2 separate regions of the Homo sapiens genome follow, and region 1 is linked to region 2. A link means that fine-mapping ties the variant in region 2 to the expression of a gene that starts in the linked region. Tissue or cell type: whole blood. Region 2 holds a variant in brackets; the other region holds the start of a gene. All regions are shown on one strand. Distances are between the middles of the regions.

Region 1 (5,000 bases), 40 kb after region 2:
CCCCTCACACGGTGACACAGTGGGGTGTGTGACTGTTTTGGGGCTTGGCCAGCTGTGGGGGCTGAGGTTCCTGAAACCAAGCACAGGGGACCTGGGAAAGCTGGGCCCCTGCTCCACTTGGGCGTTTGGCCCAAAGTTCTCTGTCCCCCCACCCTCACAAGCCTCTCTGGCCTGGTGCACATACCTTCTTGTTCCCCTGCCCAGCCTCCTGCCAGTACACAGGGCAGGGCTGGGATATGGAGGCAGGTGAGGTCCTAGCTGAAGGGGACTCAGCCCTGTGCTGGGGAAGTGGTTTCCTGAGGGCATCCTCTTCATGGCAGGGAGGCCATGAGGGGAGAAGGCCAGCCCTCCTTGGCAACCAAAAAGGCCCCATGGCCTGAGGGTGCTGGAGCCAGCCCCCACCTGCTCCTCCCAGAAGGCGTGGGGTGGCTGTGGTGGCAGCCCCCTGCCAACAATAACGGTTGGTTCTGGGATCTGGGACTGGGCGAGCCGGCCAGGCAGGTCCCTGATGTGCCTGTGCCAGAGGCCACCCCCCTTGGTCTCAAGGTCCTGTCCTATAAGCCCAGCCTTTTGTGGTTCAGCTGGGTCGCACGCTGGATCCCAGGCCCCTTCCTTGAAAAGCAGAGGCCTTGTACCCCCCAGGGTTGCCGGGCGGGACAGTGATTCCAGCCCTTCAGGTGGGTGCAGGGGCCAGGCTGGGGCTGGGGCTGGGGAGGGCTCCTCGGTCTGGGGTGGAATTTTCTCCCCCCACAGGAGGGTTTCACTCGGGCCTCAAGCAGCTCCTCCTTCCAATCCTCCCCCAAGGGGAGCCCCAGTCAGGGCTGGGCCCCAGAAGGAGAGCCAGGAGGGGCTACTGAGGTGGGACCTGCCTGAGTCCCCAGCTCGTTCACCCATACATATACACTGAATACTGCTAAGTTAAACATTTTCTAGCATTACACGTTCATTGTTTTGTTTTGAGATGGAGTTTCGTTCTTGTTGCCCAGTGCAATGGCACAATCTCGGCTCACTGCAAACTCTGCCTCCCGAGTTCAAGTGATTCTCCTGGCTCAGCCTCCCAAAGTGCTGGGATTACAGGCGCCCACCACCACACCTGGCTAATTTTTTGTATTTTTAGTAGAGACGGGGTTTCGCCATGTTGGGCAGGCTGGTCTCGAACTCCTGACCTCAGGTGATCTGCCCCTGTCTCAGCCCCCCAAAGTGCTGGGATTACAGGCGCCCGGCCTACATGTTTATTGTTTAAAAACCGGGAAAGTATAGAGAAGAAAGTAAAGGCTCCCCACCCCTAGAGATAACCGCTGAAAGTATTTGGTCTGTTTCCTGCCCGGCTTTTTCCTACACACACTTTTTGGCGCCTTAAGTCGGGCTCCCCCCGGACAGGAGGGGCCCCTCCCAGGCGCTGGTGTCTGCGCCCGCCCCCCGCAGCCTTGTCCCTGCTCCGGGGGGTCCCTGGGTCTCTGGGGCATATCGTTGCTTCACTGCTCGCTCGAGCCTCCAGGGATCGGGCCGCCGGGGCAGCGCAGAGAGGCGGGGACAGGCGACAGCGGCGCAGAGTGGCTCCTCCCGGGGCCGGCCCAAGCGGGGGTCTCGGTGCCTGCGAAGCGGCAGGGGTCGCTCGGGGCCCAGTGCCCTCTACGTCCCGTCCGGGTCCCAGCTGGGGCGGGGCGCGCCCAGTGTTTCCGGGAGGAGCGGCCCGGGCGCGCGGCAGGTGCGGCGGCGCAACTCGCGGGTAGGCGACCGCTGGTCCCGCCGCTGAGGCCCCTCCACTGCCGCCCGCCCGGCACCCCCTCCGGGCCGCCGTGGCCCGCGCCAAACCTGAGCGTCTCGGTCGGGAACTCCGGTTACCCCCTCGGGGCGCAAGGCGGCAGGGGTAAGGGCGGGGTTGTCCCCCAGAGTTTCGGGGAGCACAGGAGGCTGGCCGCCCCACCCCACCAGCCCATCCTCCCACCTCCCTGGGGCCCTGCTGCCGCGCGGCTTCCGGCTGGGGTGGACCTCAGGTCTAGCCGGCAAGCCGGAGGGCGGGCGAGACAACAACGTGGCCTGGAGGCAATGGCCCTGGCCTCTCGTGTCCCCTTCTCTCACCCGCCCAGACTTGCCCTCTTTGGAGGTCGCCCGGGCTAAGGAACATGGAAGGACGCTGGGTGGAGAGTGAGGGGAGAGGATCCCAGCTCCCCGGTGGGGGAAGGCGGGTGTTGGTGGGGAGCAGCTTTGGGAAATCCGGGATCAGGACATTGTGTGAAGGACAGGTGGCTCTGGTTAGGGGGCGGGGCGTCCCTGCAAGGAGGTGGGAAGGGAGGCCCCAGGGAGTTCTGAAACGGGGAAGGGCCTCAGTGTTGTGGGGCAAGGGTGTTAGGTCTCGAATCTGGAAGTGTTCCTGAGTGGGGCGTCAGAGGCGAAGGGCTCTGCAGGCTGGGACCTTGCCCCTGCACTCTGTGGGCTCAGTTGTGGGGAGGGAGGGGCCGGTGGGCAGGAGGGAGAAGTCTGCCCTGCCTGCCAGCTGTCATGAGGCTGGGCCACACAGGCCCAGGCCAGGGGCTAAGGACTTGGTCAGGACTGGCTGAGCCCTCACTTGGGATCAGATCTCCAGTTGCAGAGTGTGAGGGGCTCCTCCCTCACTGACCCCAAGCCTGCTCCTCTCAGCTTTCAGGACCCCACCTTCCTTATCACCAGGTCTTCTCCACTGGCCCCTGAGATTGCCATCACCTCCAGCTCCTCCTCTCCTGAAGTTGGCAGCCCCTCCTGGGTTCCAGCCTCCTGAGATGCCAGACCCACTGGGGCAGTACCCACAGGCCCTGAGCCTACATCAACCACCCCAGTGACACCCCAAGCCTGCAGCATTTTCCACCCCCAGCCCCCTGGTCCCACCTTGCCTTCCGCCCACCTTCCCACCTGCTGCAGGGAGGGCCCTCGGCTGAGCCTTCAGACACACTTGCACCCCATCCGCTCCCCTCCTGAATTTCTTCTGACCCTCCCTTGGCTTCACAGCACCTGAAGGCCAGGCTGAGGCCCCCTGCTCTCATGGCCAGCCCTGGAAAGCCTGGGGCTGATGAGGCCCAGGAGGAGGAGGGGGAACTCGAGGGGGGCTCTGCAGGGCCGCGGGCTGCAATACTGGAGCAGGCTGAGGAGCTGTTTCTGCTGTGTGACAAGGAGGCTAAGGGCTTCATCACCAAGCACGACCTGCAGGTGAGTCCCCCACCCCAAGAGACTGCTTCGGCCCTGGGTTGACCGCAGCGGCTCATCTCTGCTCTCCTTCCCCGACCAGGGTCTCCAGAGCGACCTGCCCCTCACGCCAGAGCAGCTGGAGGCTGTGTTTGAAAGTCTGGACCGGGCTCACACTGGCTTCCTCACCGCCAGGGAGTTCTGCCTGGGCCTGGGTGAGCCTGTGGCCTGCCTATCCCCCACTGCCCAGAGCTGGAGGCCTGATCAGGAGGCCTGGCACTTGTGGCGCCCTGAGGGCTGCCGGTGCCTCTCGTCCTCCTCCCTCCAGGGCCCGTGCTTTGTCTGCACGCACTCGCGCCTGGGGGCTCCTAGCTGCGGTGGAGTGTGTGGAGCTGACCTTCCTGGCCCCCAGCTCCTCTCCTGTGCTAAGCTCCGGTAGGGCTGGGAGCTGGCCTGTCACCTCTTGTTTCCAGGCCAATAGGACCAGAATAAGGAAGGAAAACAGGAAACTGGGCCCTGAGAGAGGGCAGGATACTCGTTGGGAGGGTGAACGGGGACACAGCCACGGTGGCGACCCACAGCCCTGGTAATCGCTCGCTCCATGCCCGCAGGGATGTTTGTGGGGGTGGCGTCAGCCCAGGGAGCGAACCCCTGCAGGACTCCCGAGGAGACCTTTGAGTCGGGCGGGCTCGACGTGCAGGGCACGGCGGGCTCTCTGGATGAGGAGGAGGAAGAGGAGGAGCGATTCCACACTGTGCTGGAGCAGCTGGGGGTGGCCCCGGTCCTGGGCAAGTGAGTCGGCGCTGGCCCCGCTCCCACTGCCCGCTCTGCTGTTTCTCTGCCTGCATGCTGTCTGCCCTTGTCACCCGAGTGCTGGTTCTGCACAGGGTCTCTAGGCCGGGTCAGGCCCAGCCTAGCGTCAGCTGCGATTCCCTGGGAGGGACCCGGCATGATTTCCCGCAGAATTTGCATTTCATGAGGCAGCAGCCAGGGCTGCAGGGAGGAGGGGCAGCGCCGGGCGCGGGGCCACATACCGGCACTGCCCAGGGTACACACACCTCACCGACCACGCACGCCGGGCAGGGGCGAAAGCGCTCACGGGAGGGATGCCCTGCACGCAGCAAGTGCTCCTGTCCTGCCCAGGGGCGAAGAAGTCTCCTAAGGGTTTGCTGCTGGCGGAGGGAAGCCTGCTTCCCGCTTCTGCCAGCTCCAGCCTCAGTTCCCGCCCGCCCTCCAGGCAGCGGGCTGTGAGGACGCTCTGGGCCAGGCTGCAGCGCGAGCGCCCCGAGCTGCTGGGCTCTTTCGAGGATGTTCTGATACGCGCGTCGGCCTGCCTGGAGGAGGCGGCCCGGGAGCGCGACGGCCTGGAGCAGGCGCTGCGGAGGTGAGGGCCGGGGTGGGGTATGGGGGCCAATGGAGGGCCTCAGGGCAGCAGCAGAGGCGGTGCCAGGGGGCTGTAGCGCTGGCAAGTTCTCATCCGGGGTCGCCCGGTCCCCCGAAGGCGCGAGAGCGAGCACGAGAGGGAGGTGCGCGCTCTGTACGAGGAGACGGAGCAGCTTCGGGAGCAGAGCCGGCGCCCGCCGAGTCAGGTGGGCCTCGGGCCCCGCCCCTCCCGCCAGGCCCAATCCCACCTCGCTGGCCTCCCTGGCTCCGCCTTCTCTGAATTAATCCCTCCCCGACGGCCCCACCTCCGCGGGTCCAGGCTGCCCTCAGCCCGAGGAGATCCCACTGGGCCTCACGTATCACCCCCGTCCGGTCTTCTCCACCCGACCCCGCTCCGCCCGGGCCCACTCCCAGCCCCTGGCCCTCCGTGTACCTCTTTTGCATGGCCGAGCGGCCGG
Region 2 (8,323 bases):
TCTGTGCTCCAGAAACACTGGAAGGCAAGTGGCTGCTGACTGGAGGAGATAATTGGATGCTGCAAGCGGCAAAGGGCTCGGGATGCAAAACACCGCAAGAAATGCAACAAGTGAGGAGCATTCCCGCAAAGAAAAAACGCACAGGCCGAGAGCAGTGGCTCACGCCTGTAATCCCAGCAGTTTGGGAGGCCGAGGCAGGTGCATCGCTTGAGGACAGGAGTTCGAGACTAGGCTGGCCAACATGGTGAAACCCCATCTCTACTAAAAATACAAAAAAAAAAAAAAAATTAACCGGCTGTGGTGGCGAGTTCCTGTGGTCCCAGCTACTCGGGAGGCTGAGGCAGGAGAATCGCTTGAACCTGGGAGACAGAGGTTGCAGTGAGCCAAGATCGTGTCACTGCACTCCAGCCTGGGCAACAGAGTGAGACTCTGTCAAAAAAGAAAAAAAAAATTGCACAAATGGCACAAAGAGGAAAAATCAAATGGTGAGACCCAAATAGCCAGGAGCTTTCTTTCTTTTTTTTTTTTTTTCTCCTTTCCTTTTTTCCATCCTTTTATCAGCCATAAAAAGGAAGGGAAGGTTGGGCTGGGCACAGTGGCTCATGCCTGTAATCCCAACGCTTTGGGAGGCCAAGGTGAGTGGATCACCAGAGGTCAGGAGTTCGAGTCAACCTGGCCAACATGGTGAAACCCCATCTCTACTAAAAAATACAAAACTAGCCGGACGTGGTGGCGTGCGCCTGTAATCCCAGCACTTTGGGAGGCTGAGACAGGAGAATCCCTTGAACCCAGGAGGCAGAGGTTGCAGTGAGCCAAGATTGCGCCACGGCACTCCAGCCTGGGCGACAGAGCGAGACTCCGTCTCAAAAAATAAAATAAAAAGGAAGGGAAGTTGAATAGACTACAGCATGGGTGGACCCTGAGTGAAATAGGCCAATTGAAAGGACAGATGTTACACGATACCATTTATCTGCAATGCTAGATTTGGGAGAGCCATTGAGGCAGAAGATAGGTGGTGGGTGCCCGGGGTTAAGGGGAGGGGACGGGGAGTCCATGTGTAATGGGGACAGAGTCTCTGGAGGGATGACGCATTCTGGAGGTGGACGGTGGTAATGGATACGCATGATGCTGCTGAACTGTGCACTTCAAAATGGTTAAGACAGTAGATTTTGTGTTTATACAATAAACCCAGAAAAGATGTATGCTGCACCACAAACCCAGAATAGGTTTTACGGAGATTTTCTTGGTGTTTTTGTTGTTGTTTGAGACAGGGTCTGGCTGTGTTGCCCAGGCTGGAGGGCAGTGGCACAGTCATAGCTCACTGCAGCCTCAACCTCCTTGGCTCAGGGAATCCTCCTGCCTCAGCCTCCTGAGTAGCTGGGACCACAGGCGCACACCACCATGCCTGGCTAATTTTTATTTATTTATTTATTGAGATGGAGTCTCGGTCTGTCACCCAGGCTAGAGTGCAGTGGCATGATCTCAGCTCACTGCAACCTCCGCCTCCCAGGTTCAAGCGATTCTCGTCCCTCAGCTTCCTGAGTAGCTGGGATTACAGGCGCCTGCCACCAGGCCCAGCTAATTTTTGTATTTTTAGTAGAGACAGGGTTTCACCATGTTGGTCAGGCTGGTCTCGAACTCCTGACCTCGTGATTCGCCCGCCTTGGCCTTCCAAAGTGCTGGGATTACAGGCATGAGCCACTGCACCTAGCTATATTTTTATTGTACAGACAGAGGTCTCACTGTGTTGGCCAGGCTGGTCTCAAACTCCTGAGCTCAAGCCATCTATCACCTCGGCCTTCCAAAGTGCTGGGATTACAGGTGTGAGCCACCGTGCCCAGCCTACAAGGATTTTCATTCCTGCTTTGTCTGAAGTTGAAAAAGTTTTGGAAAATCTAAGCATCGTTTAATAGAGAATCGCTAAGTAAAATGAGGCAGCATCGTGGGTGGAATATCAGCACCAAAGCGCCAAGCCTTGTGGTTAAAGGTGGCAGACCATCTTCAGTCTTCTTAGCCCCTTTCAAGTCCCCTACTATATCAGAAAGGGTTGGCTGGTTGCTTTTAAAGCACGAGCCGCAGAATGGAGAGAATGGGCGACTGGAAGGCAGGCTGAGGATGGTGAGGGGCCCTGCTGGCCAGTCAGAGAGGTATCCTGGCACCTGTGGGGCAGGTGAGCTGGGAGCTGGAGGTGTGAGCAGTGTCTGCACAGAGCCTTCTCTGTACGCTGGGCTCAGATCAACGGGCTCAAGGGATAGGCTGCCTCCTTGACTTCTAGGAGGCAGCAGCATGAGTGGGAGTCGAGGGAGGCTGTCGCAGGGCGGCCTGGGTGGGAGCAACAGTGTCGGTTTTAGCTGGTTCTACCCCGTGGGACCTCCGTATCTGTCTGGGCCTGGGTGTGGGTGCATGAACGAGGACTGCTGCTCTGGGGAGGGAGTGTGCCAGGTGCCAGAAGGGCAGGAGGAAGACATGGCTGTCCCCCCACACCAGCTGGAAGAAGGCTTGGGGGAGGAGGTGGTCAGGGAGCTCTTGTCTGCTGGCCTCAGCCACCTGTCGGGTGAGACCCAGAGCCAGGAAGACAGAGCTCAAAGGAGCCCTTCCCAGGCACCGCAGGCCTTGCTGCTTGTTGGCCCGCATGCTGCAGCCCCACCCGTGGCCAGGCCCACCAGCAGGCCCGCCGGTTGGACACCTGGTCAGAGTGGGCTGGGGTCCATGGATGAGAGGTGTTGAGGGGAGCCTCTTCTGCACTCAGGATGTGGGGCTCGCTGCAGTGGGGGCTGCGGAAGGGCCCCTGCCTGGCTGGAGAGCTCAGCCTGAGAAGCAGGGCTTGCCCTCCCCGCACCCCATGTCCTCACTGCTTCCTGGTCCTGTAGCCCCTGGGTGTCCATCTTGGGTCAGGACCCACAGGAAGGCCAGGGAGGAGGATGGAGCAGGGCCTGGGTGGCGATCCGGGCCGAGGCCCCTGGAATAAGGGCATAGGAGTGACAGGGGGTCCCGTCAGAGGGTCCTGGATGCAGCATCCCTCCCTGGAAAGCCTGGGGTGTGGGCGTGACACATGCGACCCTGCGTCTCCCAGCCACATGCAGATGAGGATGCAAGAGCAGCCTTCAGACGACAGAGTTTATTTCAGACTCAGCCTCCACTCAGGCCCGGGGTTCCTGTGGCCACTGGCCAGTGAGGGCAGGCCACGTTCTCACAGTGCCCACCACCACCTTCTGGGAGTTCGCCTGCTGCTGCGCGCCAAGGGCCACGCTGGGACTGGATGTGCTAAGGAGGGGCTGCACGAGGGGCTTCCCCAGGTGCAGTGGGCTGAGGACAGTGTGTGACGGTCGCCGCCAAAAGCAGTTCTACTCTACCTGTTATTGCATTATACGCTGGTTAGACTCAGGTGGTGCTGGGTGCAAGCTGGAGGGGCAGTCTAGCGGGGCAGGGCGGGCACAGCTGTGAGGGGCCCTCGACATCCCTGCCTCCCCGCCGGCGTCGGGGCTCCCCTGGAGCACAAGCTGGGGAAGGCGACCCTTGGGCAGCACCCCCTCCACACGCAGGCTTCAGGGCTCCGTCTTCCCACCCAGCTAGGCTTGGGTGGTGTGGGGAGGTGGCATTGAGGCTCTGCTGAGGTGAGTGCCCACCCCAGGTCCGTCCCACTGCATTCGCCCAGGCAGACCCCCGGGGGGTACGCAAAGAGCAGAAATGGGGCGAGTGGAGCCACCGCGCCCTTTAATGTCCCCACGAGGGCCGGGCCCAGGCCCAACCCATCCCGGCACCCCCACCTGCACTCAGACCAGCCCTGGGGGCCCAGGATCACCCAGCCGCCAGGGGTGGGGGGGGCCACACACAGGGTCCATTCCTTTCTTGCCGTTCCCCAGCTGTGCCCTCGCCCCACATCCTGTGCTGTGGACCCCGGAGCCTGGGCTCTTTCTGCCCTGGAGGTTGGGGAAGTCCTGGGTCAGCAGGGGTGGGCTCGGGCGTCCTC[T/A]TCACCGTGCGCGTGTGTTGGGGGCGTATGTAGGTGTGTAATGAATGTGCGTGTGTACGAATAGGTAAGGGTGAACTCTGCATGCACTGGCTTCCTCGGGTCTGTACAGGAAGTGGCTCCGTGCCCCCCGCCTGGCCCCCAGGTATTATTTTTTCCGGACCAGGAAGGCCACACCGAGAATCAGGGCTATGGCTGCCACGGCCACACCCCCAGCCACCAGCAGGGGGTTGAAGTTCTCACAGGACCAGGGACCTCGGCCCCCAGGCCCCCCACTGGCAGCCTCATCTTCCTCCGCCCCGTCCCCAGGACCCTTGGGCTCCGGGGTTGCATCGGGACTGCTGGGGACCGTGGGGGCTGGCTTCAGGTTGCTGTGGTTGTTGAGAAGGGCAGGGTCGGCCTTGGCCGAGGTCTTCTTGGCAGGTGCCGTGGTGGGGGCTGCTGGCGGCTGCTGCTTCTCGGCCGGGGCCTCCTTCTTCGAGGGCTTGGTCAAGGGGGCTTTCCCATCGGCTGCCGGGGGTACCTTGGCCTCGGTGGTGACCTGGGGCACCTTGGTGTCGGGCTTGGGGCTGCTGGCTGACTTCCCTCTGGACTCCATGGTGGGCGGGGCGTATGGGACAGGCAGGTGGCTGCACCAGAGGGGCTCAGGACAGTTTGTCGCCCCTGGGCATTCTATGGGCCTGGAGGGAGACACAAGGGAGGCTGCGCGCGGGTCCAGTCCCCCCTGTGCTGCCCCGACCACCTGGTCCCCAGGCAGCCCCTGCCCAGTTCTCTGGACTCTCTGGAGCCCCAGCTCAGGGGCCTCCCGTGGGCCTCTGACACTTCTCTTTCACGGCCTGGACTCCATCTGTCCATGACCACTCCTCAAGGGGCCCCTCCAGCCGCAGAGGCAAGGGCCACGCACAGGTGGGAGGAGGTAGGGGACCCCACTGTGCTCCATAAAATGGCCCATGCAAATGCCACATCCTCCCACCAGCCGGGGGCAGGAGGCTCTTGGTGGGGAAGTAAGGATCAGGCCCAGAGAACTCGAAGGAAGAGCATTCTCCCCTCCAAGGAGGTGATCGGAGCCCCAGTGGGAGAGCTGACTGCATCCCCTCCTCAGGAGAGCATTCCTGCTTTGCAGAGATGGACACTAAAGCACGGAGGCTGTGACCTGGCCAGGGTCCCAGGGGGAGGAGGGCGGGGAGGGGCAGGAGCTGGGATCTCAGGCAGCCATCAGGGTGGGTGGGCCCACAAGAACCCAGACTTGAGAAAACTGGGGTGTCTCTCCAGGAAGTCAGCGTGGGGCTGTGCTTCCAAGGGCCGTCTGCCCCTCCCCAGCCTCTGGGGCCCCCTCCTCAGCATGGGCCGTGCCTGCCTCCAGCCCTGGAGCAGGGAGTCCTCGCCCAGCCCAAGGCTGTGCTGTCTCTGTGGGCAGAGGGTTCCTGGCGTTAAACAGGGTGGGCACATGCTGCACTTGGCCCGCGGGTCAGGGCGGAGGACAGGGTTCTGGGCTGTGGGAAAGGCGGTGCCCAGATTCTCAATGACCGAGGCAGAGGTGGGAAGGGCCCTGGGGGCCCAGCCGCCCTGAACCTGAGTGGGTCTTGCCCCAAAGCCCCAGAGGCCGCCTGTCTGCCTCTCCCAGGGAAGGATGAGAAATGCCCTCCAGACCTGCAGAGAAAGGGAGGCACGTTCCCCACCCCCCGCCAGGTGCATTGACCACACTGAAGGTCACCCGAAGGTCACAGCATGATGAGGGCGTCTCCAGAAGAGGCCCAGCTGCTGCCACCTCCCAGGGAAGCCCAGCCGTCCCTTCACCCCTGCAGTTCTCGGGGGGCTCAGCTGCTGGGCATCAAGTTTGCAAAGAGCAGGTGGTCTGCCCCCCCAACCTCGCTATTTGTGGCACTTACATCCCGGCCGCCGCCTCCCTCTCCCGGGATCAACTGAGCCCTGGAGAACTGGGGGGCCCGCGCGCAAACCCAGTGACCTTCAAGGCCCGGAGCCGCCTCCTCGCCCCGCAGGACGCCGCGCCCGCCCCGCCCGCCCCGCCCGCCGGGAGCCCCCCGCCTTACGCGTCCTCCGGCCTCCCCGGGGCTGCGCGCTCCTCCGCGGGATGACGGCGGCTGCGAACGCGGAGGAGAGCTCGGGAGTTTCCCACAATGCACTGCTCCCGGCGCAGGAGGGCGGGGAGGGGGAGGGGCGACCGGGCCCCGCCCCGCCGGGAACCGTGGGATCCGCAAACCCAGCTCCGCCTTAGATCCAGGGGTAGAAACTTAGGGTCCGAGAGAGCAACTGCGGGGTCCAAGTCCCATCTGGGACTGCCAGAGGCAGGAGGCGGGTCCCGCTCAGCATCCCCTCTAGGCCAGGGTGCCCCTTGGTCGGTGGGTGACGGGTCGGTGGGTGAGGGGTCGGTGGGTGGGTGCGCAGGCCTAGCCCTGCAGTCTGAAGGGAGCCAGTTATGGGAAGAGGGGACTGCCCTCCCCCGCCCCCAAACAGACCCCCAGACAGACAGCAGCATCTACTTAGAATATTTATTTATTCTCTGACATGACAAGACACAAAAAGTTACAACTTCTTAAAACTCTTCAAAAGAAAAAAATATAATTCTGTAAGCAGCAGCAGCAGCTTCCAAGGTTCTGATGTGACGGGAGGGGCAGCTCCCAGGAGCAACCGTGAACTGGGGGGGTCCAGGCCTGAGCCCCAGGTAGTGTCGCTGGGAAGGGGCCTCTGTGGAGGGCCCCGGTTTTGGGGACACAGCACCAGCACATCAGGGTCTGTCACCAACACGATCACATGGCCAGGGCGGGGCAGGGAGAGCTTCGGCTCACAGCAGGGATCGCCCGGTGGCAGGGGGGATGGGGCTTCTGAAGTGTGGTCAGGGGCCTTATGCCCGGAGGCGGGAAGGATGGGGCTTCTGCAGTGTACCCAGGGGCCTTATGCAGAGGCTGAAAAAGGAGGGTGGGCCCTGAGAGGACTTGGGGGTGTGGCAGCTCCTGGCCCTCCCTCCAGAGCAGGGCAGGCACCCTCAGGCTCCACACTGGTCCCAATGCCCGCCCTGCTCCCTGGCCAATCCCAGGCCAGGGTGGAGGACTCAGGAGAGACCAAGCTGGGTAAGTTAGTTCCTGGACGGGGTCAACAGAGCCTGGGGCACACACAGCACACAGAGCGCCTGGCCACGGCGGGAAGGGGGGCAGTCCCCAGCAGCCCCATCCCCAAGGGCCAGGCCAGATCCCCACAACACACACACGCATGCACACACACATACACACACACATGCACACAGACCTCACAATCTGGGCCCCAGCCTGGGGTGGGAGCTGAGGAGCCCACCAGAAAGTCCCACAGTGGGTGGCGGGCTTGCCCCAAGAGTCAGACCTCAGGGCAACCCCTCACTTGGGATTCCTGGCTCAACAGAGAGGGCAGGAGACCCCAGTCCTCTTGCAAGGCTGGCCAGGGAGGCAGAGTCAAGTCCTGCCAAGGCGACAAGAGCGGCTGGGGAAGGACGGAAGGGCTGGAGAGCCGCTTGGGTCCAGCAGATTCAATAAATAGGTTTGTGTGGGGTGCCTGTGTGGGCCAGGATGGCTGTGGAGACTGGAGCTGGTGGACTGGGGGTATGGTCCAGCCTGCCCGGCCCAGGCCCGGGGGCCCCCAGCCCAGAGACCAGCTCTGTCCCTGGGGGTGTTCAGGCCAGGGCAGGATTGGGGCAGGGGCTAGCTTGAGGAATGTAAAGATTTCTGCATTTTCTACATAAATGAGACATTGATCCCAACGGTGCAGGCAGCACCCCGGGGGGCTTGCGTGTGCACCACCTATGTGGACCCTGCACCCTGCCCCCTGCTGCCCCTGCCGACGGGAGGGCTGGGGAGGGGTCTTCCCTTGCTCCGTCCTGGGCTAGCTGCCTGGCTCCAGCCCCACACCGGCCCTGCCCAGCTGGCTGGGGTGGAGCGGGTGCTGGGCTCAGGCCTGGGGGTCCTGCAGCAGCCCCAGCAGGGACTCCGCGATGCCCAGGAAGTAGACCACCTGTGCGATGCCGAAAAGGGGCGCGATGACCAGCGCGCGGCAGTAGGCGCCCTTCAGGAAGGCCGAGGGGCCCTCGTGCCGCAGGATCTTCCTGTGGAGGAAGGACGAAAGGGTCAGCCCGGTACGCAGGCCCCCAGGCCCCACCCGCCGTGGGACCTCCCCACCTGGCACAGTCCAGGATCCCAGAGTAGGTGTCCTCGTTGACGCCTCGCTGAAGTGACTGGAGCCGCGTCTTCACCACTGCAAGGGGCGCTCGGGTCAGTGTGAGCCTGGCCAAGGGCTCAGTCCCGCCCCATCCCCAGCCGGGCGCCATCCCATGCACTGACCATCACAGGGGTTGACGGCCACAGCGGCGGC

The links. PIP is the estimated chance that this variant, and not a neighbour inherited with it, causes the effect.
Region 1: it holds the start of CRACR2B, and the variant in region 2 is fine-mapped to the expression of CRACR2B in whole blood (INTERVAL, PIP above 0.99).

Annotation. Positions count from the first base shown.
Region 1 is chr11:825,590-830,589 of GRCh38, forward strand. CRACR2B (calcium release activated channel regulator 2B) reads left to right here and starts at 2,330. Exons shown (of 9, transcript NM_001286606.2): 1 at 2,330-3,183; 2 at 3,263-3,374; 3 at 3,771-3,951; 4 at 4,397-4,543; 5 at 4,661-4,748. The coding sequence starts at 3,019. RefSeq lists silencers at 1,433-2,052, 2,293-2,382, 4,577-5,000 and enhancers at 1,753-2,291, 2,832-3,369, 3,370-3,909, 3,910-4,447.
Region 2 is chr11:784,012-792,334 of GRCh38, forward strand. It overlaps CEND1 (cell cycle exit and neuronal differentiation 1), which reads right to left and starts at 6,079. Exons shown (of 2, transcript NM_016564.4): 1 at 6,019-6,079; 2 at 3,104-4,647. The coding sequence starts at 4,565. The coding sequence ends at 4,116. It overlaps SLC25A22 (solute carrier family 25 member 22), which reads right to left. Exons shown (of 10, transcript NM_001191061.2): 8 at 8,293-8,323; 9 at 8,131-8,206; 10 at 6,464-8,057. The coding sequence ends at 7,904. It overlaps GATD1-DT (GATD1 divergent transcript), which reads left to right. Exons shown (of 2, transcript NR_126343.1): 2 at 1-286. RefSeq lists an enhancer at 1-471 and a silencer at 5,990-6,219. The variant T/A (reference allele first, on the strand shown) is at 3,971.